2 separate regions of the Homo sapiens genome follow, and region 1 is linked to region 2. The links come from fine-mapping of genetic effects on gene expression. A gene starts in region 2. The other region holds a variant in brackets. All regions are shown on one strand. Distances are between the middles of the regions. Region 1 overlaps PYHIN1 (pyrin and HIN domain family member 1). Region 2 holds the start of PYHIN1 (pyrin and HIN domain family member 1).

The links.
Region 1: its variant is fine-mapped to the expression of PYHIN1 in whole blood (TOPMed, PIP above 0.99). The same link has a PIP of 0.9 or more in blood mononuclear cells.

What each region holds. Positions count from the first base shown.
Region 1 is chr1:158,969,041-158,982,978 of GRCh38, reverse strand. It overlaps PYHIN1 (pyrin and HIN domain family member 1), which reads right to left. Exons shown (of 9, transcript NM_152501.5): 8 at 9,208-9,332; 9 at 5,920-6,278. The coding sequence ends at 9,213. Among named protein-coding and RNA genes, the nearest start is that of PYDC5, 27 kb to the left of the region's middle. The variant C/T (reference allele first, on the strand shown) is at 7,095.
Region 2 is chr1:158,923,906-158,936,684 of GRCh38, reverse strand. PYHIN1 (pyrin and HIN domain family member 1) reads right to left here and starts at 5,133. Exons shown (of 9, transcript NM_152501.5): 1 at 4,909-5,133.

The DNA of each region.
Region 1 (13,938 bases), 46 kb before region 2:
CAAAAATTAGTAGCATTTCTATACAACTAATAATACCCAAGCTGAAAGCCAAACCAAGAACATAGTTCCTTTCACAATAGCCACACAAAGAATAAACACATAGGAATACAGCTAACCTGGGAGGTAAAAGATTTCTACAACAAGAGTTACAAAATGCTGCTAAAAGAAATTAGAGATGATACAAACAAATGGAAAGACATTTCATTCTCATGGATAGGAAGAATCAATATTGTTAAAATGGCTATATTCTCCAGAGCAATTTACAGATTCAATGTTATTCTGATCAAACTACCAATGTCATTTTTCACAGAATTAGAAAAACTATTCTAAAATTTATATGGAACCCAAAAAAGATCCCAAATAACCAAAATAATCCTATGCAGAAACCACAAAGCTGGAGGCATCACACTATCCAAATTCAAACTATACTACAAAGTTACAGTCACCAAAGTAGCATGGTGCTAGAACAAAACAGATACATAGACCAATGGAACAGGTTAGAGAACCCAGAAATAAAGCTGCACACCTACAACCATTGGATCTTCAACAAAGTTGACAATAACAAGTAATGGAAACAGTACTTCCTATTCAACAAGCAGTGTCAGGATAACTGGCTGGTTATATACAGAAAATTAAAACTGGAACCCTTCCTTTCACCATATAAAAAATCTACTCAATATAAAGTTAAAAAAAACTTATATATGTAAAACCTAAAACTGTAAATGCCCTAGAAGAAATCTAGGAAATACTATTCTGGACATTAGCCTTGGCAAAGACTTCATGACAAAGACTCCAAAAGCAAATGTAGCAACAACAACAAAAATTGACAAGTGAGATCTAATTAAAGATCTTCTGTACAGCAAATTAGACTATCAACAGAATAAAAAGATAGTCTACAGAATGGGAGAAAGTATTTGCAAACTATGATTTCTGAGAAAGGTCTAATATCTAGACTCTATAAGGAACTTAAATCAACAAGCAAAAACCAAACAGTTTCATTAAAAATGGTTAAAAGCCATGAATAGATCTTTCTCAAAAGAGGATCCATGCAACTAACAAGCATGTGAAAAATGCTCAATATCACTAATCATTAGAGAAATGCAAATCAAAACTACAGGGAGATACCAGCTCACACCAGTCAGAATAGCTGCTATTAAAAAGTCAAAAAATAACTGATGCTGGTGAGGTTGTAGAGAAAAGGGAACATTTATACATTGAGGGTGGAAATGCCAATTATATGCCATATTTTTTTATATGGTGAAAGGAAGAGGTCCAGTTTTAATTTTCTTCATACAGCTAGCCAGTGATCCTGATGCTATTTGCTGAATACTTCAGCGACTGTTGAAAACAGTTTGGAGATTTCTCAAATAACTTAAAACAGAACTAACATTTGACCCAGCAATCCCATTACTGGTATATACCCAAAGGAATATAAATTGTTCTACTAAAAGATACGTGCTTGTATATGGTTTCTTTGTTTGTTTGTTTATTTATTTCTTTATCTTTTGATTCAGAGTCTCGCTCTTGTCCCCCAGGCTGGAGTGCAATGGCACAATCTTGGCTTACTGCAACCACTGCCTCCCAGGTTCAAGCGATTCTCCTGCCCCAGGCTCCCAAGTAGCTGAGACTACAGGTGCCTGCCACCACAAAAGGCTAAGTTTTTGTATTTTTAGTAGAGACAGGGTTTCACCATGTTGGCCAGGCTGGTCTCGAACTCCTGACCTCAGATGATCCACCCACCTCAGCCTCCCAAAGTACATGTGTATGCTTATTGCACTTTTCATAATAGTAATGACATGGAATCAATCTAGATGGCCATTAACAGTGGTTTAGATAAAGCAAATGTGGTACGTATACAACATGGTACACTACGGAGCCATAAAAATACAAAATCATTACTGGGGGAACCTGACTCCAATATTTCAATGTAGGTTCTTTCTATTTTCCACAAGTGTCAGCCAGCTGAGAAATAAAGACAGTACAAAGAGGAATTTTACAGCTGGGCCACGAGGGGTGACTTCATGTATCGGTAGGACCATGATGCCCGCCTGAGTCTCAGACCAGCAAGTTTTTGTTAAGGGTTTCAAAAGGGAGGGGGTGTAAGAACAGGGAGTAGGTACAAAGATAACATGCTTTAAAGGGCAAAAAGCAGAACCACTAGTAAAGGTCTAACAAAGATCACATACTTCTGAGGGAACGGGACAAAGGGTAAAAGCAGAACCACTGATAAGCGTCTATGTTCAGCGGTGCATGTATTGTCTTGATAAACATCTTAAACAACAGAACACAGGGTTCGAGAGCAGAGAACCGGTCTGACCACAAATTTACCAGGGCAGAGTTTCCCCAACCCTAGTAAGCCTGAGGGTTCTGCAGGAGACCAGGGTGTATCTCAGTCCTTATCTCAACTGCACAAGTCAGACATTCCCAGAGCAGCCATTTATAGATCTCTCCCCAGGAACGCATTCCATTCCCAGGGTATTAATATTAACATTCCTTGCTAGGAAAAGAATTTAGCAATATCTTTCCTACTTGCACATCCATTTATAGGCTGTCTGCAAGAAGAAAAATACGGCTCGTTTTGCCCAAACCCGCAGGCAGTCAGAGCTTACGGTTGTCTTCCCTAAAAATCGCTACTATTCTGTTCTTTTTCAAGATGCACTGATTTCATATTTTTCAAACTCACATGTTTTACAATCAATCTGTACAGTTAACAATTATCACAGTGGTCCTGAGATAAGATACATCCTCAGCTTATGAAGATAACAGGATTAAAAGATTTAAGTAAGGACAAGCATAAGAAATTATAAAAGTATTATTTGGGAACTGATAAATGTCCACAAAATCTTCACAATTTATGTTCCTCTGCTGTGGCTCCAGCCAGTCCCTCCATTTGGGGTCCCTGACTTCCTGCAACAAATCATGTCCTTTGCAGGAACATAGATGCAGCTGCAAGGCATTATCTGAAGCAAAATAACACAGGAACAGAAAACCAAATACCACTTGTTCTTACTAATAAGTAGGAGCTAAACATTGAGTACACAAGGACACAAAAAGAAGCACAATAGACACTGGTGGTTTACTTAAAGGTCGAGGGTGGGAGGAGGGTGAAGACTGAAAAACTACCTATCAGGTACTGTGCTTACTACCTAGGTGACAAAATCATTTGTATGCCAATCCCAGCAACATGTAATGTATTGATGTAACAAACCTGCACATGTAGCCCCTAAATCTAAAATAAAAGTTGGAAGAAAAAAATATGAATACCATATGACCCAAGATTTATTCTTCTTGGTATTTATGCAAAATAATTAAAATAGGAGTTGAAGAGATATTACTAGCGCTCCCATGTACATTACAGTATTATTCAAAATAGACAAGATGTGAAAACTACCTAAATGTCCCAGTTTTGAATGAATAGATAAGAAAATGTGGTGTGTATATATAATGGAATGTTATTCTTTCTTAATGAAGGAAATTCTGCAATAGTTACAGCATGAATGAAATTCTGCAATAGTTACAGCATGAATAAAACTTGAGGGCATTATGCTAAGTGTAATAAGCCACTCATAAGAGAATAAATACTGCATGAGTCCACTTATGTAGAGTATCTATAATAGCCAAACTTACAGGAGCAGAAAATAAAATGGTGGTTAGCTGGGGCTGGAGGAAGGGGGAAATGGAAGCTGCTATTCGATGGGTATACAACTTCAGATATGCCAGATGAATAAGCTCTGTAGATCTGCTGCACAACACTGTGCTTATAGTTCCTAATACTGTATTGTAAACTTGAAATTTGTTAAGTGGTTGATCTCACGTGCTCTTATCATCATAAAATTCTAATACATGCCTCACTATGTGGTTTTAGAGAAATAATGTTGCTAACAGTGTTGGATTTGCCTCTTCCAATCATAATCATTTGCTAATACACTAGAGATCCTCTCAGAGCTATTTCACTGCCTCTTGCAGAGAACCACTTGGTACAAACTGATCTCTAAGATGTCTATGAGGGTAGGTTAGATCTCTGTGAGCTGTTCTGTCTTTCTCTTTGGTTCACACATTTCAAAGTTAGGGGAAGCCCCAGATTCTCACCTACTTGTGGTCCCAAGTAGGAGCTCTGATGTGTAGTAAGATATAAAAATATAAGATAGAGTGGGGTCAAGGCATTAGAGGTTGACGCTGTTTAAATTAAAACACAGTGAACAGGCTAATTCTTTCGGGTGGAAGATAATTTCTTTCCTATCTCATTTACAGACATGACTGTCCTTAGAAGTTAAAATTTCAGGGAGAAATCAGCAAACACATTAGACAAAGCACCTAAATGACCCATTCTCTAACTGTTAATTACCATCATCTACATACTCAAGAGTGGTCCATTATACCTAGTTTATGTAAAGTAATATGAATATTATGTATTTGAGTAGCTCAGAATACCAATATCATTTGCATATAAAGCAGTTATTTTCTCAGTGTCCATAAGTCAAATTTGAATTTGGAGGATGTTTTAGCAGTTTGTGACATCTTCTCAAGATGAAATCTGTTTCCTAACTAGCTGAATGATGTGATTTTGACCACTTCACTCAATCTCTGAATTTCAGTTTTTTCACTGCACATGAGGAAAAAATTCGGTGGCTTCAAAACATCCTTCAAAATTTGATTTTCCCAAGTGAACCAAATTATCATATATATATATATATATATATATATGTATAGACACACACACACATATGAATATTAGCAATGATATTTGGCAATAAAGAATGTCTGAAAAAACTTATTCATGGTATCTGAATCTATCATACTTTCTTACCTTTATGTCTGATAAAAGACATAATCGGAAAGGTGCAGGGCAAGAGGAAAAAAAAACTACATTTATTCCTTGGATTGTTGGTCCAAACCATAAAGGCAGAACTTTAATGCCTCTTTTCCTTAGATTAATTGGGCATATATAGCTTCAGATCACCACAGTTCTCTGATGAGTACAGAAGATTGCTATTTTGCATTTATCTACTTTTTCATAATTTTAAGGGTGAGAGTGAGGCTCTTTTCAGCTTTCTCCATCTTAGGTGGAATCCGTCTTATTCATTGTTTAATTTGCATCTTATCCCTGTTCTCCTAACATTAGCACACCTAACCCAAGCCAGAACAACAGACCTGGATGTTAAATCAAGGACTATATAAGACCACCTAAGTGTCACTTCGAAAGTAAATTTGCTTTCTGTGCCCTTTTTTCTTTATATATGGAGAGTAAAAAGGAGAAAACTGTCAACCTTCTAGAGCTACGGTGAAGATTAAATGACACAAAATAATTACACCAGGTGCCAAATATATGATCCATAAATACATTGTAAGTTTTAGATACTGACTTTCTGCCATTCTACTCTAAAATAAATTAATTATTCTTCAGTTTGCCTAAGTTAACTGTCTGCCTGGGCAACTTTCTGATGGATTCATATAGTGGAATGTGAGAAGAGGGAATATGGTGGGAGAGCTCCTGAGGAGCTGTTGGTGCTGAAGGAAATGTATAGAACCAGATAATTTACATCAAACAGGGCCAGGAATTCCTCTAACATAGGCAAGTGCCTTCATGCACATCACCAGAAAGTGCCTGGTTTGGCAAGAAAATTACCCAATTATTCCCCCTCCAGGAGTCCAATTCTGAAAAGATATCTCTAGTTTTGGCTAGAGCAACTCCTTCCCAGGACACAGTGCTTGCAACAGAATCACAGGCTGGATTTCACCCCTACCTGCCCCTTGGTCTGGATTCTTTGGGCAGGGCACAGTCAGTTCAGTCTTAACCAGGGCCTATTCCTTAAAGATCCCATCCAAACTATAAATCTGTGTGCCCCACCCTGACTTGCAGGCCACAGTTTATTTGCTTTTACATAACTCACAGATAGATTAAAGAAACTCCTATGGAAGCACTCTTTAAGAAAAAAAAGTTTATTTTTTTTCAAATTATGAAAATTCTGAATGCAAAATATGATATGAAGAAAATGCATAAAAGTAAAACTAATGAAATAAAATGCACCCTTAATACTCCATTTCCTAGAATTAATAGCTGGTATATATATATATATATATATATATATATATATATATATATATATATAGTATTTCAACCAGATATATATACATATATTATTTTCTGTGCTTTGATCTTATCTTCATAAACATCATTACCAATGGCATCAGGTTTTTAGGTGGAGGACTTCAGGCAAAATTTCCACACTTGAGTAAAGATTGAACAGTAGTTATTTGATATCCTTGTCCTTGGTGACCTTGAAGCATAAAGAGATAAAAATAAACCCGTTGAGATGCAGGGAGTCATACATTTCTTTCTTCAATCACACTGCCTCTCCTCCCTGTGAGCCACATCTCTTCTTCTATTTCCATCTGAAGCACTCTTTTCTCATTCTCATCTATCTCCTTTAATGAATCCTGTCCTTGGAGTCACATCTTCCCCCTCTGTTGGGACCATGAAATGCGATATTCACTCCTACCCAGCATGAGCCCACGTGAAAGGGCAGGAGATGTCAGGGAACAATAAGATAGAGAAAGGAGCTGGTGTGTCCAACGACAAGGGCTAAAGGGAAACTTCTCATTGGGCAGAAAGGTAGGAGGAGCGTACAAAATGTATTCCTGGTGCAACTGCTGTCAAGGAAGGCTTGGGACTTTTGACTAATGGCCCTGAGAACTGGAGCAATCAGAAAGCCTTTGCATTTTTGTGTGTCTGAATGTGTTAGCCTTTATTCTGATCTTTTTGCATTCCAATATTAGCCTTTATTTGTTCCAAGAATCCCACATGAATATATGTGACAAACAGCATAAACTTTGTCATGTAGATCCAACCATCTCTGTCTACACAGAGATGTTTCTCACAAAAGACAGCTACCTTTGTGTTCTGATTTGCTTAGGGACATCCTTGGTAATTTAGGACTGTTATGAGGTATGTTGGCCACCCTCAAATTTAACTCCCTCTTCTGTTCATTGTGTACCACAAATAATTGAATGAGCTAATATGTGAAACAATTGGATTATAAAGGATTAATGAAGATAATTATTGAAAAACCCTTAGAATAGTCTGAGTCATTCTG[C/T]ATACTCAGTAAATGAGAGACATCATTATTTCCATTCTATTAGGTACTTTTAGTCACATCCACTGTTTTAACAACTATGTCTCTATTGATGTAATTCAGTAAAAGGCCCAGCCAAAATTACCCAAGTTTAAGCTCTATATATCAGATGGATAATTCTTAGATGTCCTGTGGGAATCTCAAACTTAACTTGTCTAGAGCAGAACACGTTTTTTCCCTGGAACATGGTCTTTCTACTGTGCTCATAAGAGGTGTATTGAAGAGTAAATGCAATCATATACATAAAAACATAACTTTCACTTCCAGCTTTACCCAGTAGAAGCTCAGTTAGAAAAATATTGTTTTCATTGTTATTTAAAGACTATGCAAGTTTTTTATGTCAGCCTGATCCAGAAATGAATTATGATTTATGTTGATCCTCTTGTGGAAAACCCAGATAAAGTTGTAGTGATTGGGAATAAAACTAATAGCTTCGTTTTTTCCCATATAGTAATTCTGAGCCAGTAATATCTCCATTTGTTTTCCCAACCATTCTGGGCTCTTTGATTTAGGAGAGTCATGACAAAAGATGAAAAATAAGAATGGTCTGCTTTTGACTTTAAATCCAAAAGCATAGAAAAATTTATACAAATTAATAATTAATACAAACACAGTATTATTGGGATGATCTATGATATACAAAAGCAAGGACTTCTTTCAGAGCTAGTGAATCACAGAGGAAGTAACAGGATGTATTTTCCAGGCATCCTGTGGAAGTGCTAGATATCAAAGAAGAAATGGCTATATGGGAGGTTAGGTGTAGGAGACATAGGACCCTAGCTGAGATTCCTGGGCTAAGGGAGGTTTAGATGCAGTCAAATAAATCTAACGGCTATAGAAACAGACCATAATGCGTATTTAAAATGGTAGAACCTAGGCAAACTTTGCGTAGTCCCTTCAAAGCCAAAATGCAGGAAAAATAAGTTCTTTTCCAGAATGTTGTCCTGGGATGTTCAATTATGTCTATTAAGTAACAGAAAAGTGGGTCTGAGCTGGTAATGACTACATATGCGTTCCATCCATGGTCACCTAAGCCAAGATGGCTAAAGAGGACGTGCTAGCTTTGACTCTCAAATAAATTACATATAATTTATTGAGGAAAATGTGATTCTCGGGCTTATCAAAAACAACAAAAACATAAACAAACCAAAAAACGACCACAAATTGAGAACTCCTGTATATAGGTAATCTGTCTTCAACTAGTCTGTATGGTGACATGTCTTCAACTAAAAGAGTGGTGACATGATTCTCCTCTTGCCTTTCTCTTTCATCACCTTCCCTCTCACTGTAGATCATAGTCTTCTGTTCCCTAGGTGGAGGTGACTCCACTGGTCATATCATGACCAAAAGCAGGCTGGGATTCAATTGGAACACTTAGATATAAATTCATTAGTTCACCTTTGTCTGATGTTCTCTGGACAAGAAATCTATAAACTGTACTTATTATCAAGTGTGGTTGAAAAACACTTTATTATTAGAATTTTAATAAATGTTCTAAATAAAATAAAGAGAAATGTTCAGGACACCTTGGCATGATGTGTTCTATGGCAGGAGGAGAATATCAGTGCAGTATTTTTCTGAGGAAGGGGGATTTTGGTTGGCCCAGAAATATATTGGGGCAAATGAAGAGATGAGAGTAAGGGATTCTAAAAAAAGGAAGTAGCATATGCCAAGACACTAGCTATGGAAAGAAACAGGGATTTTGAATATCAATCCTAAGTTATGGTCATTAGTCGTAGTGGAAAATTGTGAAAGGAAACTGGAATAGAAGGTACGAACATACTGTTGTATTCATCTCTCCTTGTCTGGATACCTCCTCACATACACCATATTTGCACCAATGAAAAACAGTAATCTTCCTGAAGACAGAAATGATTTCATGAATGCATATTTTGTGAGTATTGAAGGACTTAGAATCCAGTGGCATGTCCAATTATATATTGATAAATGAATGAGAAATGTAGTAAAATAATGAAATAATATATAGTCAGAATTTAAATGAGAATCCCTTTGAAGACTCTGATTACCCCTACAATTATATTTTAGAGGTACAGCAATGCAAATAGAAAGGTGGTACCTTATTTAAGGAACTGCTGGATGGCGGTTGGTGGAAGTGTCAGAAGAAAGAGGAGGGGCCACAGTTGGTGAGGTGATTCTAAAGTTTGCAGGCGATGACTGTGCTCCTGGGTGGGTTTCATCCTTCTGGAGTCATAAATTTGGGTAATTTAGTCTTTCACTTTATGACAGAAAGAACTGGTTTTTTCTGCTTAATATTTTCCTATATAAGTTGGATGTAATACATGTGTGTATATGTGTGTGTGTGTGTGTGTGTGTGTGTGTGTGAAAATCCCTTTTTATAGAATCTTCCCTCTGCTAATCTCTCTGGATGCTGGCATACATTTAGTTTTCTTAACCCACATTTCAGCATACACAGAAACTAGCATATAGTATAAGAGAAAATGGATCTGAGCTGGAAATGATTAGGCATGGGGTCTATTTGAGGCCACTTCTGCCAAGATGACTGCCTGCTTACTGATCCACCAGATAAAATCTGTAGACACTCTTCAGGAAAATATGAACTTTGGGTAACAATAACAAAATAATAAAGAAAAATCCAGTCACATATAGCAAACTCCTGTAAAGAATAAGTCTGTCTTCAACTCATAGGTGTGGGGGAGTCACTGAGGCTGTAGGCTGGGTCAGTGTGGATCTTGGGGCCTGGGTGAAAAACTAGATGAGAGAATAAAGACTTAATACTCCCCTTTTCTTTCTCTAAGTTGACTTCTTGTTCACTGCTGATAGAGGGTGCTGTGGCACAGAGGCAGGTGACTACACAGTCCAACTTACTGGTAAGTAAAAGGCAGCATGGAATAGGATTTCATACACACAGATATAAACTCATTCATGGACCTTTGTTTTTACTTACCTGAGCAGGTAGCATATATAATCTCAATTACTTACAGGGTTGAAAATATACTATAATTACTGTGGTGACAAGTATTATAAAGGAAATAAATGGACATGTGAAGGACACAAAGAGATGATCTGTCTTATTTTTGGATGGGGTTATCAGGAGGTCTTGCTTGAAGACAGTTTTAGGCTGGCCCAAAAATATATAAAGGCCAGTGAAGGAATAGGAGAAAAAGATTCCAGACAAAGGGAGTACCATGTATGAAACAAAAACATGTAGGAAAGAGTAAGAATGTTGAAAATAAACTGTGAGTTATGGTTCTGAAGCAAAAGGGAAATCTGTGAATGAACAATGAAATGTAAGAGAGGAACACACTCTTGTATTTCTTCATCTTTGTGTACTCTCCTCCACTCTTTCTCTATATCTGGATCATAAATCACAATAATGTCTTTAGGTCAGGAATGATTTTATCAATGTATCCCTTGTAAATCATAAAAATCCTAGAATCTAGTAGCATCTCTGATTATATACTTAATAAATGAATGAGAAATATAGTAAAATAAAAAACTATTTAGTCAGAGATTGATTGAAAAGCTCTGTCAAGATACTGATTATCCCTTTAAGTATAATAAAGGGAGGCACAAAGAATGGCAACAAGAAGTTGGTACTTTGGTTAAAGAACTACCAGATGGGGTTTGTGACATTTTCTGTGACATCTGAGGATGGTTCAGAGTTGGAGGTTCTCCGATGACTGAATTTTACCTATGCAGACTATACACTTTGAAAGGATACTATCTTATTGGAGTCATATGTTTGGGTGATTCTGGCATCTGTGTTCTGAAGAAAAGATCGACTTTTCTGATTAATGGTTTCACTATGAGATGAAGCCTGATTATGTATCTGCCTCTATATCTATACGTATCTATATCATCATCTATCTGGTTTGATTTTTTAATTTATTTTTTTCTTTTATTCTTTTTACATTGTCTTCCTTCTTGCATTTTCTCTGGCTAGCAGCATAACTTTAGATATCCTAACCTCTTCACCTGCACATTCACAAATGGCATTTTGGCCTTCGTTTTATTGACTGAAATTCTGTAGGTGTGTGATTGGGTCCTGGCTCTGTTTCTGGTGAAAACTCATCTAGGCTAACTTGGTCAAGCACCTCTGCTGGAGTTATTTTTGTTAAGTAATGCTCCTAAGTTATAAGGGTAGTAAGTTTCAGAACAATGTTAGCCAAATGGATGAAAGCCATTTTCATCAAGCAAATACACAAAGGATTCCTGTAGTTTGCACTTCAGGACCCAGAAAAATCAGTTGTCAGTTGTTTGGGGATACTGATCTTCATTTTGCTATCAGCACTCTCTGAAAGCACAGTTCCAGTCAGGATTCTGTTTATCCAGTGATTTGCATCAGGTATCCAAAATCCTTCAGGATTCCCAACAGCAATCACAACCGTTTCAGATTTCACTAGGGCATTCCCAGAACATGTCTTTATATATATATATATATCTTGTTAATGTAAGGATAATGGGTGTCTGGAAAATCACATGTGATTCTCTCTAAGCACTAAGGAAAGCACTTAAGGACGTTCTACTTCCAATATCAAATCACTCTCTTTACTAAGGAAAATAATTAAGGACATTCTACTTCCAATATCAAATCACTCTCATTCATTTCTATTTGTAGATTTCCATAATATTTTTCTTTTGTCCTTAAGGAGATGGAAGGAAAGTGCTGAAAGATCAGTTTGCTTATGAGGGTTTCCAAGTGAGGACAACAAACCCTAGCCATCTTGTGCACCTCATCCTGTTTTAGAAGCTTGAAGAGTCTGGATTATAAAAACAAATGTAAAATTCAACACTATTTGAAATGCTTATTGATATATTACAGATATTTTAATATCTACTCTCTCTCACTGGAAGAAACATACTCCCTCAACTACAAAAACTTTTTAGTTGACTAAGTTGAATATGAATCTTTCAACTAATACTAATTATCTTTATTAGCTTGGGAGAGATTTCTAACTTCTCTGAACCTCATGATTCTCATATGTGAAATGAGATATAGGTTGTATCTTCATGGATATGCAATAAAGAATATATGCTATACATTTTATAATAAACACAGCTTTACTTCAGAATCCAGTAAATGCTCAATAAGAAGAAATATCATTATTATTTTCATTGTTATAGTATATGCAGTGTTTGTGTGTTTGCTCTATTCACAGATATTTTATGCTTTATGTTGACCCAGTTGTAGAAAATCTCATTGAGGAGGTATGGGTAAAATATTAAATAAGCTAGTCTCTATTCCCTTCTACCAAAGCTAGTAGTCTAATCTCATTGATAAAAGTGAATTGAACAAGTATCTCTTCAAAATAAGTCAAAACTGATAAGATCAGATATTACAGTTATCTTAGTGGAAAGGCCAAGAAGTGATATTGGACGTAGAGGGGATGTGATAATAGACATTGGAGACTCAGAAAGGTGGAAGTGTGGGAGTAGGGTGAGGGATGAGAGATTATCTAATGGGTACAACATACACTATTCAGGTGATGGATACACTAAAAGTCCCAACTTCACCACTGCGCAATTTAACCATGTAACAAATCTGCACTTGTACCCCCTAAATCATTAACAAATATACATAATAAAATATAAACAAAAACATTTTCATTACAGAAGCAGAATTTGGATGCCTAAGATCTTAGCTTTGGTTGAATATTAATTTAAATCATTGCTGATTATTTTCCTCATAGTAATTTCTCCCTAATAGCATCCCTGATCATGACTCATGCCATTCTGTGATCTATGCTTTAGATGAGTCATGACAGATGGTCATGCTTCTGTCTTCTTCGGGGTTTAGATCCCAAAGCATAATGAACCTATATCATACACAAATTTTTGAGTGAACCCTTGATGAGTAAATGGGCAAGGCTTTCCTGCTCACCTGGTGAATCATAGATTGAGTGGTGAGACAACCTTGGAGTGGGTCACCAAAGCAGAAAAGGTCCATGATACATTTAGGTGTAGGTGGCCATGGAGATACATGCCTCTTTCTAAAATTATTGTATTAAGGGAGTTTATGTACAGCAGAATAATTCCTATGAATGTAGAAATGGCTGTATTACATATTTAGACAAAAGAACTTAGAAACTGTCACTCCATTTTGTCTAAGCCATTATGCGTCAGAAAATGGATTGTCTTTAAATGTTTGTCTTTGAAGTAGCAGAGAGTAAATGGATCAGAGCTGATAATGACCAGGAATGGGCTCCATCTAACCACCTGAAGTAAGATGGCAAATAGGTTAGATTGATAGCACTATCCACAAATAGTAATTTTAGAAAGTGTACAGAGAAATATGAATTATTGGAATTCACCAGTCAAAAAGAACAAAAGCAGCAACAAAACAAAATGTAAAAATGAGAACTCCTTACATAGGAGTCCTGTCTTCAACTGGTACACATGTATTAGTGATGCAGAAAGAAGGTTGGTCAGAGTGCAATATGGTAATGGGTAAGATACTAGATTGGAAGATAGTGACTCAGTTTTCCTTTTACCTTAGCTTCAAGTTGCCTGCCCATTTACTGAAGATATAGGCATCTGATTCATAGGCCTTAACATGGCAGTGAAAGAGAAAGAACGAAATAGTGAGTCACAGTTACCTAATTTCTCATGCGAAGCCTTGCAGAACCTGAATTATGGAAACAAACTCAAACCATAACGATGTCTGACTTTAAATATATAGAAAAATATTTCAGAAATTTTAACATCTACATTCTGACTCTGGAAGCAATATATGACCATGAAATACTTAAGTTTTAGAGTTCATTAAGGCTGGATTTGAATGTTGACTGTAAGACCAAAAATTATTTTTTTAACTTTTATTTTAGGT
Region 2 (12,779 bases):
TCAATACCTAATTTATTGAGAGTTTTTAGCATGAAGGGTTGTTGAATTTTGTCAAAGGCCTTTTCTGCATCTATTGAGATAATAATTTGGTTTTTGTCTTTGGTTCTGTTTATATGCTGGATTACGTTTATTGATTTTTGTATGTTGAACCAGCCTTGCATCCCAGGGATGAAGCCCACTTGATCATGGTGGATAAGCTTTTTGATGTGTTGCTGGATTTGGTTTGCCAGTATTCTATTGAGCATCAATGTTCATCAAGGATATTGGTCTAAAATTCTCTTTTTTTTGTTGTGTCTCTGCCAAGCTTTGGTATCAGGATGATGAAGCTGGAAACCATCATTCTCAGCAAACTATCGCAAGGACAAAAAACCAAACACCGCATGTTCTTACTCATAGGTGGGAATTGAACAATGAGAACACATGGACACAGGACGGGGAACATCGCACACTGGGGACTGTTGTGGGGTGGGGGGAGGGGGGAGGGATAGCATTAGGTGATATACCTAATGCTAAATGATGAGTTAATGGGTGCAGCACACCAACATGGCACATGTATACATATGTAACAAACCTGCACGTTATGCACATGTACCCTAAAACTTAAAGTATAATAATAATAATAATAAAAGAAAGAGTTGTCCATGAATATGTGTGATAAAGAAGGACTTAATGACCAAATGAGTTACTGTAGAAATTGAGTGAAGAACTTTTGCTTTAGGAATGTCCAAGTAATTCATCCCATTGAATGAGGATAGTTGAATTGGGTCCAGGTGTTAGAGGGAGGTCTGTGAACAAGCAATTGTCTCAGTGTTTAGAGTATGGGCTGTGGAGTGTCAAAGTGCTTGGTTGCTCTTCCCATCCTTTACTGGGGCTGGAGCCTATCCCCCAAAACCTGCCTGTTGTTTCTTAAATCTTCCCACACCCACCACTATGACTGGAGTGGCCTAGGTGTAAATGGGCTGCAGCCTCCCACCTTATATGAATAACTTTCTGCCGCAGCACTACAGTTTCATGCTGGGGCGCCGACCCTATTCTCCTTAACTCTTCTCTTGTCAGCTCTCATCAGTATCCTCTTCCTTGGTGTTGGACCCTGCCATATTTGTCCTCTGTGCCCATAAAACTATCACTTTCCTGAACATCTACATTTTCTCTATTGCAGGAACACAGGATTTATTGGCTGGAATATTTCAATAGTTGCTTGATTTTTCTTTTAGGCTTGATTTGTCTAATTCATTTTCATTTCACAGATCCACATTTCTCTCTATAAACCACATTTTTATCCCACTGAAATCTTTCAATATTTGCCCATTTTCTTTTCAATACATTCCTTGCTTCTTGTATTGTTTCAGAAGACTTTGAATAATCTGCATTCTTTTTTTTTTTTTTTTTAACCTCTGGCACTTGTGTGTTCCTTATATCTTACATTTCAGAAGTATAAAACATTTTCATGCTTCATGACTTTGCTAATTCTCTTCTCATTGCCTGGAAAGCCATTCCCACATTCCTCTATCTGACTGCCTCTCCTACAACATTTTAGACTCAACTGAGAGTTTGTCTTCTAGAAATTTTCAGAGTGCCCTTATGGACAGAGTGTTACTCCTCTGGACCTCTTTAGCACCAGTGCACTTTAGCACATGATGACACTCAAAGCATGCTATGGATTCCTGTTTCCTTTTTAAATTAACATAGCGCTTTGGGAGGCTGAGGGAGGCAGTTCATGTGAGGTCAAGGGTTCAAGACCAGCCTGGCCAACATGGTGAAACCCCGTCTCTACTAAAAATACAAAAGTTAGCCAGGCATGGTGGTGGGTGCCTGTAATCCATAATCCAAGCTACTCAGGAGGCTGAGGCAACAGAATTGCTTGAACCCGGGAGGTGCAGTCTGCAGTGAGCAGATATCATGCCACTGCACTCCAGCCTGAGTGACAAGAGCAAAACTCCACCTCGATAAAAATAAATACAAAAACAAATATTTTAATTATAGAAAACATGTATTTGTGTACCTCTTGTGTAATTTAGATATTTAAATTCCTGGGGCTGTTAATTGCTTTCTTCTTGAGAGAACATGAGTGTCCTCAGATTGATAAGCATAGAATGAAGGAAAAAATATATACAAAGACATATAGTGAAACTGAAGAACATAAAAAACAAATAAATACTCCATAAGCCTCCGAGAATGAAGGCTTTAGATCACCTGCAAAGATCCAAAAATTAGATTGAAACTGATTCTCAACAACAAATCTACTTGAAAGAGGAGAATGGAATCATTTTTATATAATGCTGGCCCAAAGTCCCATATAAATTGCTAAACAAAAAGTTTAGAAATGGGAAGTTTTGATTTGTTTTGTGAGTATGACAACACGATTTATTTGCAAAATGAAACCAGATGTGAGCTTACAGAAGGCTATGTATGATTTTTATTTATTCCACTTAAACACAAATATTCATATGTTTTGATGCTGAAATATTAGTGCTTTTGCTTTTGTAGTAATGACACTGATAACACTGGGGTTTCTAGAAAAATGTGCATTAAGTAATCTTTATAAACCTCCAAGTTCTGATTTTCAAAACATACCGAGCCCCCCAGGTACAAAAGAAATGCTCTCATCTTGTCTTGAAGGAAAAAATAATTTTAAAACTAGAATTTCAATCTAAACAAAGTGATATTTAAACATAAGATCCTCAAAAACTATTCTCTGAACCTGAAGGCCTCAGTAGTTTTTCCAGACAAAGATGCACACAGAAACATTTTTGGAAGTACTTTTCAATAGAAAATTAAAAAAAAATTTTAAAAAGCTGCAGGCCAAAAGACAAGTAAGAATGAAAAACGAACTTGATTATGTGTGCCTATGACTTAAAAAGAAAGCCCTGATCAAAGAAAAGAGAAACAGAAAGTATACCAACATGGTGGAGGGAGGGAAGAAAAAGAATATGAGTTTACTAATGTAATTGTCTTAAAGGGTGAGATGGAAATATAAGTTTTAAAAACAGACAAGTAGGAGAATATAGAAGTGTTATAAATTGAAGTGAAGATAGCAGAAGCAGGCCAAAATATGTTAATTATTAGCCTATACATAAAGAGGTTAACTAGTTAAATGACAACTTTTATCAAATTTGATTTAAAATTTCTATATGTATGTTGTCAGTAAAAGATCACTGAAAGATGAAAAAAAATTTAAATTATCATGCAAGGAGAAACTAGAAGAAAGCCAGCTTATCTATGCTAGAATCATTTTTAAAAGATCTTAAGACAAAGAGTATTATCAGATACCACATGGTAAAAGGTTGAATTCCTGGGAAGATACAATAATTTAAATTATAGATTTATCTAATAATAATAAATGTATATTATTTTTCATTATTGTATAGTCCTTCATGATAATATAATGTTATATAATATATTTATCTTCATATACACACATATGTACACGGTGCCACAAATATATATATTTATATGTGTATGTTTATGTTTGGAAACATGTATGCATGATCACATACACACATAATATACATTATACAACTATGCATGTGAGCATATCTATATATTATATATATGAATTTGAGAGGAGTACAAGAAAATACCGTCTTATAATAGGAGGTTCTATATTATATCTTCCAATACTAAATGAACAAGGTAAAAAAACATTTTTACAAATTTGAGCAACATAATTGATAGCAATATTTATCTAACATATATAAATCCTGAAATCAACATTTAAAATCTCATATTCTAGTCAAGTACACTGAGATATTGCACCAGGCTATACAGAAAGTCTTCTAAAAATTCTGAACTTTGACAATATAAATCTATTTCAAATTGACTTCCATGCCTCTCCCCTATACATTGCCACTAGAAAAATAAAACATCATTAACTTTCAGGAGGGCAGGAAGTAATCTTAAAATGAATAAAAAACTGCCTTTCACATCTGGTATAGAATGATGCTAATGTAAAAGTTAAACATACTTATGAAAATATTGACACATTTGAATTATTTGAATTATTTGAATAATTGTGTTTGCAAAATGGATACATTTTCTACTATGTGTTTGCACTTGTAGAATAATATTATTTACAAAATGTTCTCACATATGTTTTTGTGTGAGAACATGTTTTGTAAAATTGAGATACCGTAAAATACAGCTGTATGTCTAGATGTGTTTTTTACTTAATATTATTTCCTGATACTTTGTGCACATCATTATCTTGTCTTATTTTATCTTCTACTTTCATTTTAGGTTCAGAGGGTACATGTGCAGGCTTGTTAAATGAGTAAACTGTGTGTCGCTGAGGCTTGTTGTCTGGTGATCCCATCACCAAGGTAGCGACATAGTACCAGATAGATAGCCTTCCAACCCACATACTGCTCCCACCTTTCCTCTCAAGCAGTCCCCAGCGTCTACCGTTCCCATCTTGTGCCCATATGGATTCAATGTTTAACTTCCACTTATAAGTGAGAACATGCAGTATTTGGTATTCCTGTGTTAGTTCACTTAGGGTAATGTTCTCTAGCCGTATCCATGTTATGCATATACAGCGTGGAATACTATGCATCCATAAAAAAGAATGAAATCATTATCTTGTCTTTTGCCCAGACCCCAATGGCCACCAAGCTTTCTAACCTCAGAGAATATATACTCAGAGAATTTGTTTTAAAATCTGCAATGGTCAAAATGCATATTCCTTCATTCATGCCCCAGTTGTAGAATAAAGGATATCTACTATCTTTGAAGTAAGTAAAGAATTGGAAGTATTAACTGCAGTTTTCACTTTTCTGAATATAGTTGATACCAGCCCTACTGCCCTCACCCCACTGCCCTGAAGAACCAATATCGATTTTTCCCTTGTGATTTTGTGGCTTTCAAGGAAGCATCTAGATCTTTTCTATAAAAAATACCCACAGTACTCACCTTACTGGGAATTTCTTCAACAGTAGTCCAGATCTTGAGATCTTCAGAAATGTAGGAAATGAGGATTGTTTTGAATAGGGAAATCAGTCAGTAAAGCTCTCAGAAACTGAAATACAGGATGTTATAATCTCCTGAAATGCTAAGAAAATGAAGTATTTTCAAAGACAACAAGGGAAAATGGCCCTTCTTAGAGTCACTTGACTAGTGCTGGCTTCCTCATACTCTGCTTTGCCCTGGGGAGAGAGAAGTTGTGAAACAACGTGCAGACTCCTCCCACCCATATTTTTTGCTTTCCATCCTGTTAGAGAAAATGAACAGTTTCTTTCCTGTAGGTATCTTAATCAAAGTAAAATTTGTATCAAAGTTATATTTAAAATTTTTTTTCTTACAAATGTTGATATCTGAATGGAGTTCCAATCTTAGAACTTTCTTAACCAGCAGACTTACATGTGGGACATTAGGGACCTCTATTCCGATGAATGATTGTCAAATATGAGAGAAGCAAGGTGGTTTCTTCTCCCTCCTTTCCTGTGCGGTTGCAGGGGGAGATCTTGGTAGGAGCATCTATTGCTACCAGTACTTTACTGCATCTCCTGCATGGGAGAATGTCTGCTATGAAATAGCAGTTGGTTTAAATACTACCTGAAGCATTCACCCAGTTATTAATAGTTGACAAACCTAGGGCTTTCCAGATCAGAAAGTTATTATGAATATATAAATCCTTTCTCAAATATATATAAAGGAGTTTAACACTAGCTGTCCTCTTGACTATGACTAGGTTATTTTACCTCAATGATTACATTCATGATTCCTCAGGTTTCCTTCATTATTCATGGAAAAACACAAGTGGATAGTGGGCTCACAACATGACAGCATCGAAGCCTTGAAAATCCTGGAAAATGCACTGAACTTCTGGTAGACCGAGAGTCCTGTTAAACCCTTTGCTCAGCAGTATTTTTTCTGTTAAGGGCAGTGGGTGTCCTTCAGAGTACTAAAACCCCAAGATGTCAAATAAACGACACCAACTGGCAGATGATGTTGTGTTAACCCAGCAGCAGATCTGCAAGCAGGATGTGGCCATGAGTGGAAAATGGGGCCCGAAATACAGCTGTAGGGGAGAAAACAAGTTTTTTTTAAATTTCCCTTTTTAGGTTATTAGTTGACACTCTCCTGAAAACAAACGTCAAATTAACAAAAGAAAAACAAGCAGTTTATTAATGTGTGCTCTACTCATCACAAGGGATAGGCCTCAGTTCAAAAGTATTTCTCTCTCCAGGCTGTGGCTTAGAAACCTTGTTTAAATAGTATTTCAATAAAGAGCCATACGTTCTATATAGTGAAAAGCAAAGGAGAAAGCAGTTCCAGTCATTTAAAAGGTGGGAAAACGTGGGAAGGTAGTAAAATCTGTTCCCAGATTCCTCAGGTTCCTGGTGGCGCCTTCTCCGGGCTGAAAAGCAAGTGCTTTCTCCAGTAAATACGGATTTATGTCCTGCCATCAGGCAAATAGTGCCTGAGGCAGCATGTTCCCCTCCATTTTCTGTCTTTAACTTAACAGTCCTAAGTATTTTGAGAAGTATTTTTGGTTTCCTTCACAAATAATACAAATGATCTGAGGCCATCTACAGAACAGAAGAAAGCTGATCGCCTTAGTACAAACTAGGGTCATGGAGAGGATAGTTGATGTCTGGATTTGGAGCCATATGATAATTTTATCAAAGCAAAAGTAAGTTAAGAAAAAGCAAGGAGGATCTGGAAGGATGGCCACAAAAATACCTTCGAGTGTTCATGGTTTTCTTTTATAGGTTTACGTTGCTGTTAATGTAGAGACACTAAGTTGGTCTTAAGATAGTAGGTAGAGAGGGATATTAGGAAGGTCAGGTTACCCCAATTCAAAGGTCAGAGAGTAGAGGAAACTTGGTAGAAATTACCATGTTTCAGGACATTTTTGTTTCCCCTTTTTGGTAATCATTTCATGTAGAGTAATGCCTTTGGTTAGGACTCCAGCATACAACATACAAATTACTGTCACCAATGAAGACAATTCAGAACATTGCTCCATAATCCATACTGTGCAGATAAAATTGTAATAGATGAAGCAAAGAAATGCTTTAAAAATGTGCATTTGTGCTGATTCTGAAGCAGTGGGCAATAATTTGCAATTTGTGCCATCACACAGAAAGCTCACTAATAGAACATACGAGAGCTCCTGATAAGGGGGTAAAAGTCTTGGATGGACCTTCATGACTTTTTATCATCTGAAGTACTAATTCCGATGCTCATTCAAAGTCCTCAGGAAAAGTTCCCACCCGATTAATGTTCTAACCAAGATGTTAGTAAATTACTGCCTGTGGGACAATACTAACACACCATCCACTTTTGTAAGTAAAATTTTATTGAAACACAACTGTGATTACTCACTTATGCATTGTCAATATCTACTTCATGGTGCAATGAAGAGTTGACTAGCAACAGAGTCCATCCGGCTGCAGAGTGTAAAGATTTTGCTGTATGGCTTATTATAGAAAACGTTTGTCAATCTGTACCCAGTCGTCAGTCTAGGAGACGGCAGAAAGCCTCTAAGGAGAAAAGCAAAAATAATTACTTATTTTTATTTTTGCTTTGTTAAATCAAAAGCAATGTTAAATCAAGTTTAGCCTAAAGCTGCCTTCTTACATATTCTAAGTTCAGCCTAAAGGTTTCTCATACAGCGTGAATGATGGCCTAAATGGAAGTGTAAACAGACTGTAGTATATGCTTGTGTCAATCACCAAGTTTTGGCCAATCAAATGTGGCCAACTTGTTCAAACCGCGTTCAAATAAGGCAAACTCCGAGCTATAACCAATCCAGCTCTTTATCTCATGTCCATTTTCTGTATCTCACTTTTCTTTTTCTCTTCATAAATCTTCCACTATGTGGCTGTGCTGGAGTCTCTGAGCCTACTCTGGCTTGGGAGGCTGCCTGAATAACATTCACTGCTCAGTTAAACTCTTTTAAATTTAAGTCAGCTGAAGCTTTTCTCTTACACAATCACACCAAGAAACCACGTTTGGGACTTTTAAAGTCCATTGTAAACCCCTGGATAAAGCCTTGTAATAATTATTGTGATCTCAGAGAGGAAAATGGAAATGGAGAGTGTTAAAACCTTTCTCTAATTATCCCTAAGAGTCAGAACAAAACCCATTTGTTGAGAGCCTCAGTTAGCAAGATTGCTTTATGCATTCATGGCCATCAGCCACCTCAATCAGGTGCCTTCTCCTTTTGTCTCTCAAGTAAATAGATTTCTCTTTCTCAAGGAAGAGGGAAAGGTGATTGAGTTTTAAATGTTGAACCAATCTTATATCCCTGAGATAAAACACTTTTAATGATGCATTATAATTTATCATATTGATAAGTATATTGGTAAGTATAATTTTTCAATATTTTAAAAGTGTTTTTGCATTTATTTTCATGTGAGAGTTGGTTTTTGTTTAGTTTCTGTCATATTGATAAGTATATTGGTAAGTATAATTTTTCAATATTTTAAAAGTGTTTTTGCATTTATTTTCATGTGAGAGTTGGTTTTTGTTTAGTTTCTGTCATATTGATAAGTATATTGGTAAGTATAATTTTTCAATATTTTAAAAGTGTTTTTGCATTTATTTTCATGTGAGAGTTGGTTTTTGTTTAGTTTCTGTGTAATATCTTTAATTTTGGTGTGACAGCAAACTGGCATTTCTAAAACAGATTGTATAGACATGGTAAACTTTTATCCTCAAATGTCTGATGGAATTCATAAAGTGTCTATTCCCAAAACTTTCACTACGGAAAGATTTTTGTTACAACTTCTCTTTCTCTAATAGATATAAAAATATTTAGTTGTTTTATTTCCTTACAAGACAGTTTTGGTAAGTTGTGTTTCACAGGATTTTTTTTGTAATACATTTTTGTTTTACAGGAATTACGTAAGTAAACTTATTTGCATAATATTTTTCATAATTTTTTATTACCATTTTAATATCTGTAGTGCCATCCCTTTACATTCCTGATACTGGCCATTTATATTATCCTCCCTTATTTTTCTTGATTACTCTTGGTAGACTCTCTGAGGAGGATGCTCAGGGAAGTTCAAAGGCAAGAGGAGAGACAAAAAGGACAGTAAAGGATTCTGAAGCCTTTGGCACCGACATTTAGGACAAAAAGTAAATAACGTTTTAACAACTAGCCAGACTAACAAAAAATCTCATACTAAAGGTCTGTTTATTTCAGTTCCTATTACCTGATCATATATGTCTTCCTTTTGACAAAAAAAAAAAAGAAAGAAAGAAAAAGCAAGTTATGCTAAAGACAAGGAAAAACAGAGTCTCAAGAGTCAAAAGAACCATTAGAAGCAGACTCAGATATGATCCTCATGTGGAAATTTGCTGACAGGGAATCTAAAATTACTATGATTAATGTGTTAAGTGCTCTAATGGAAAAAGTAGACTGCATACAAGAACAGATGGGTAACATAAGCAGAGAGAAGAAAACACTAAGAGATAAATCAAACAAAAATGTATGAAGTGAAACAATGGTAACAGAAATTGAAAATAATCAATAGACCAGACATAATCTAGAAAAGAATGTTACCTTGAAGATAGATCAATAGAAATTTCCAAAACTAAATGCAAAGGAAAAAAATATTAAACCCTCCAGCCCACAGAATATCTAATAACTGTGGTGGGATATCTTAAGATGTAGCAAATACATAATCGAAAAGCCAGAAAGAAAGAAAGAAGGAAGCATAAAAAGTACTGAAATGGTCTCTTTGTCTGGTGTGACACCTGAGGTTCTTGGTCACATGGCCACAGAGATCAAGGATGCAGACACACACAAAGTGTGAGGTTTAGAGCTGAATTTTAATAGACAAAAGAAGGAGAATAGCTCTCTGCTACAGAGAGGATTCCTGGAAAAATGGTTGCTGATCTGCTGTGAAATGCAGAGATTTTTATAGATGAGCTAGTGGGGAGACGGTGTCTGATCTATGCAGGGTGTGAAAAACTGGTTAGGACCAGCTGTGCCATCTGCATAGGGCCCAAATCTCTGGCTGCCCCTACCCCCATCTTTTATTATGCAGGTGGGTAGCTACTCCATGTTGCTTATTTCTTTCTTACTGTACACATGCTAACAAAAAAGGAAAGGTGGAACCCCATGGTGAACACGCCTGGTACCAGGTAGCCTTTTCTATTGGTGCAGCTGCCAGCATCCCCCCATGCAGGCTCCCAGCTTCCTTCTCTATGTTTGCAGTTCGATCTTTCAGGCTGCTCTTTATTAGAAAATAAGTGATTTTTGGGCTTCTTTTTGTTAGAAGGGAAGTTCTGCCAAGGACTCTTTTGCCCTCACTATCTGCCTAAGATAATTTCTTTCTATCTCCTGTATCAGTATTTGGAGAAATAATTGCCAAGAAATATTTAAAACCAACCGGAGCCAAAACCTCAGATGCAGGAAGCTCAGATATTATCCACTGTGACAAATGCTGAAAAACAAATCATATCTGGACATTTTATATTTCAACTGCAGAAAAGTCAAAGAAAAATCTTGATCAAAGTCAGGAAAGTAAAATATTGTATTATATATAGAGAAACAATTCCAAGAATCACTGTGGAGTTTTTGTCAGAAACATTGGAGGCAATAAGAGAAAGAAGAATATAAAATGAAATGCTTAAATGTATTGAAAGAAAAAACATGGCAATCTAGAATTCTATATCTGGCAAAATTATTATTCAAAAGTGAAGGAGATCAGATCTACATGAAGAAAAGAAAACCATCAGAGAAGGCATAAATGCAAGTCAATTAAATTTTAAAAATTTTGATTCTGAATTGATTTAAAAGATAACTTTCTTTAAAGTAATAATAGTAATGATGTATTCAGTCATTATAGTATATAAATACAAGAAATGAGCCAGGGAAAAAATGGAGGAATGGGGATTTTCTGTTATATGGTATGTGTTGTATACATAAAGCAATATAGTAATATTTAAAGATAGATTTAAGTTAGTTAAAGCTATATTTTTGAAACTCTAAGCCAAACAATAAAAAACTTTTTAAAAAGTATAATTCATATGTTGAGAAGAAAAGAAAAAAATCATTGCTCAGTTAAAACCATAAAAGGCAGGAAAAGAGGGGCAAAGAAACAAAGAACAAATGTAACAAATAGAACGTAGTTGCAAAACCGTAGATATTAATCTAACTATAACAACTATAGAAGAGCTCTGATTTGTAGCAATTGCCGATTCCTGTGGTATAAATATCACCTCCTCTGCTGCCTTTATAATGCAAAATATTTGACAACCAGCAGAAAAATTCCTTAATACTTAATAATCTGTTTTTTTCTAGTTTGGGAGGCTGAGGCGGGTGGATCACGAGGTCAGGAGTTCGATATCAGCCTGGCCAACATGGTGAAACCCCATCTCTAGTAAAAATACAAAAATTAGCCAGGTGTGGTGACAGGCACCTGTAGTCCCAGCTACTCAGGAGGCTGAGGCAGGAAAATCACTTGAACCTGGGAGGTGGAGGTTGCAGTGAGCTGAGGTTGCACCACTGCATTGCAGCCTGGGCAACAGAGCAAGACTCCATCTCAAAATAATAATAATAATAAAGATCATCATCATCATCATCATCATCATCTGTTTTTTCTAATTTCTAGCTGAGGAATGAGTGTGCTGCCTTCAATTCATCCTCTTATTGCATAAAATCTCCCAATTATGTACCTGTTTTTTTCACAGTGAAACTTCCATTCCTCCCTTTATGAAAAAAGGTAGCTTACTGTTTTACCATTCTGACCTCATTTTCCATACCCTTCTGCATATACCAAAGTTTCAGTTGTGTGGAACTATTTGTGTTATTTCACACTTTTGAGTATCTTGAGAAGCGTGAAAAGTTATTTCACACTTTTGAGAGAGAGAGATCTGGTGCCTTTTCTTTAAAGGAGACCAATCACATCCTGAAGACCTTGATGTCCTAAATACTCAATAGTGTGAAATAGTTCTCAATGCTATTGATACTACTGATACTCAATAGTATCAATAATTTAAATGTCTTTATCTTGCTAAGAACAATGATTCCTACCGCATATTGATTTCTCATGATGCACTAGAAGACTGTAAAATATAATGTATGTGCTTTATGTCACTAGATTTTCAAATCAACCCTATGAGGCAGAGTTTCCCCATTTTAGAGAAGACTATTGTCTTAGTCGACTTGAGTCTCAGAATACTATAGCAAAATAACATAGACTGGGTAGTTTAAATGACAGGCATTTCCCCCAGTTCTGGAGGCTGGGGTTCCAAGATAAAGGTGCCAGCCAACTTAGTTTCTGGTGTGGGCCCTCTTTCTGGCTTGCAGACAGCCATATTCATACTGAGTCATTACTTGGTGGGCGTTGAGGGAGAGAGAGAGTGAGTGAGAGAGAGAGAGTGTGTGTGTGTGTGTGTGTGTGTGTGTGAGAGAGAGAGAGAGAGAGACAGAGACAGACACAGAGAGACAGGGAGAGATCTGATGCCTTTTCTTTAAAAGGGACCAATCACATCATGAAGACCCTGATGTCATAAAAGAATTATCTCCCAAAGGCTTCATATTTTCAAATATCATCACACTGGGGGTTAGGGCTTCATCATATGAATTTGGGTGACACAATTCAGTCTGTAGCAACCATTTAAGCTATTTTCCCAAAATTATGTGACTAGTTAGGGTTGGAGCCAGATTCAAACAAGGTCTATCTTATTCCAGAGCCTTGCCACTTATAATATTAGCACAAGGGCATTGATTGGTTTCTCATGCTTCCTGCTTGGGCTGAACATTTTATGTTAAAACACAGGAATCTGATTTTTCCAAAGCCTAAACTAAATTATTTTAT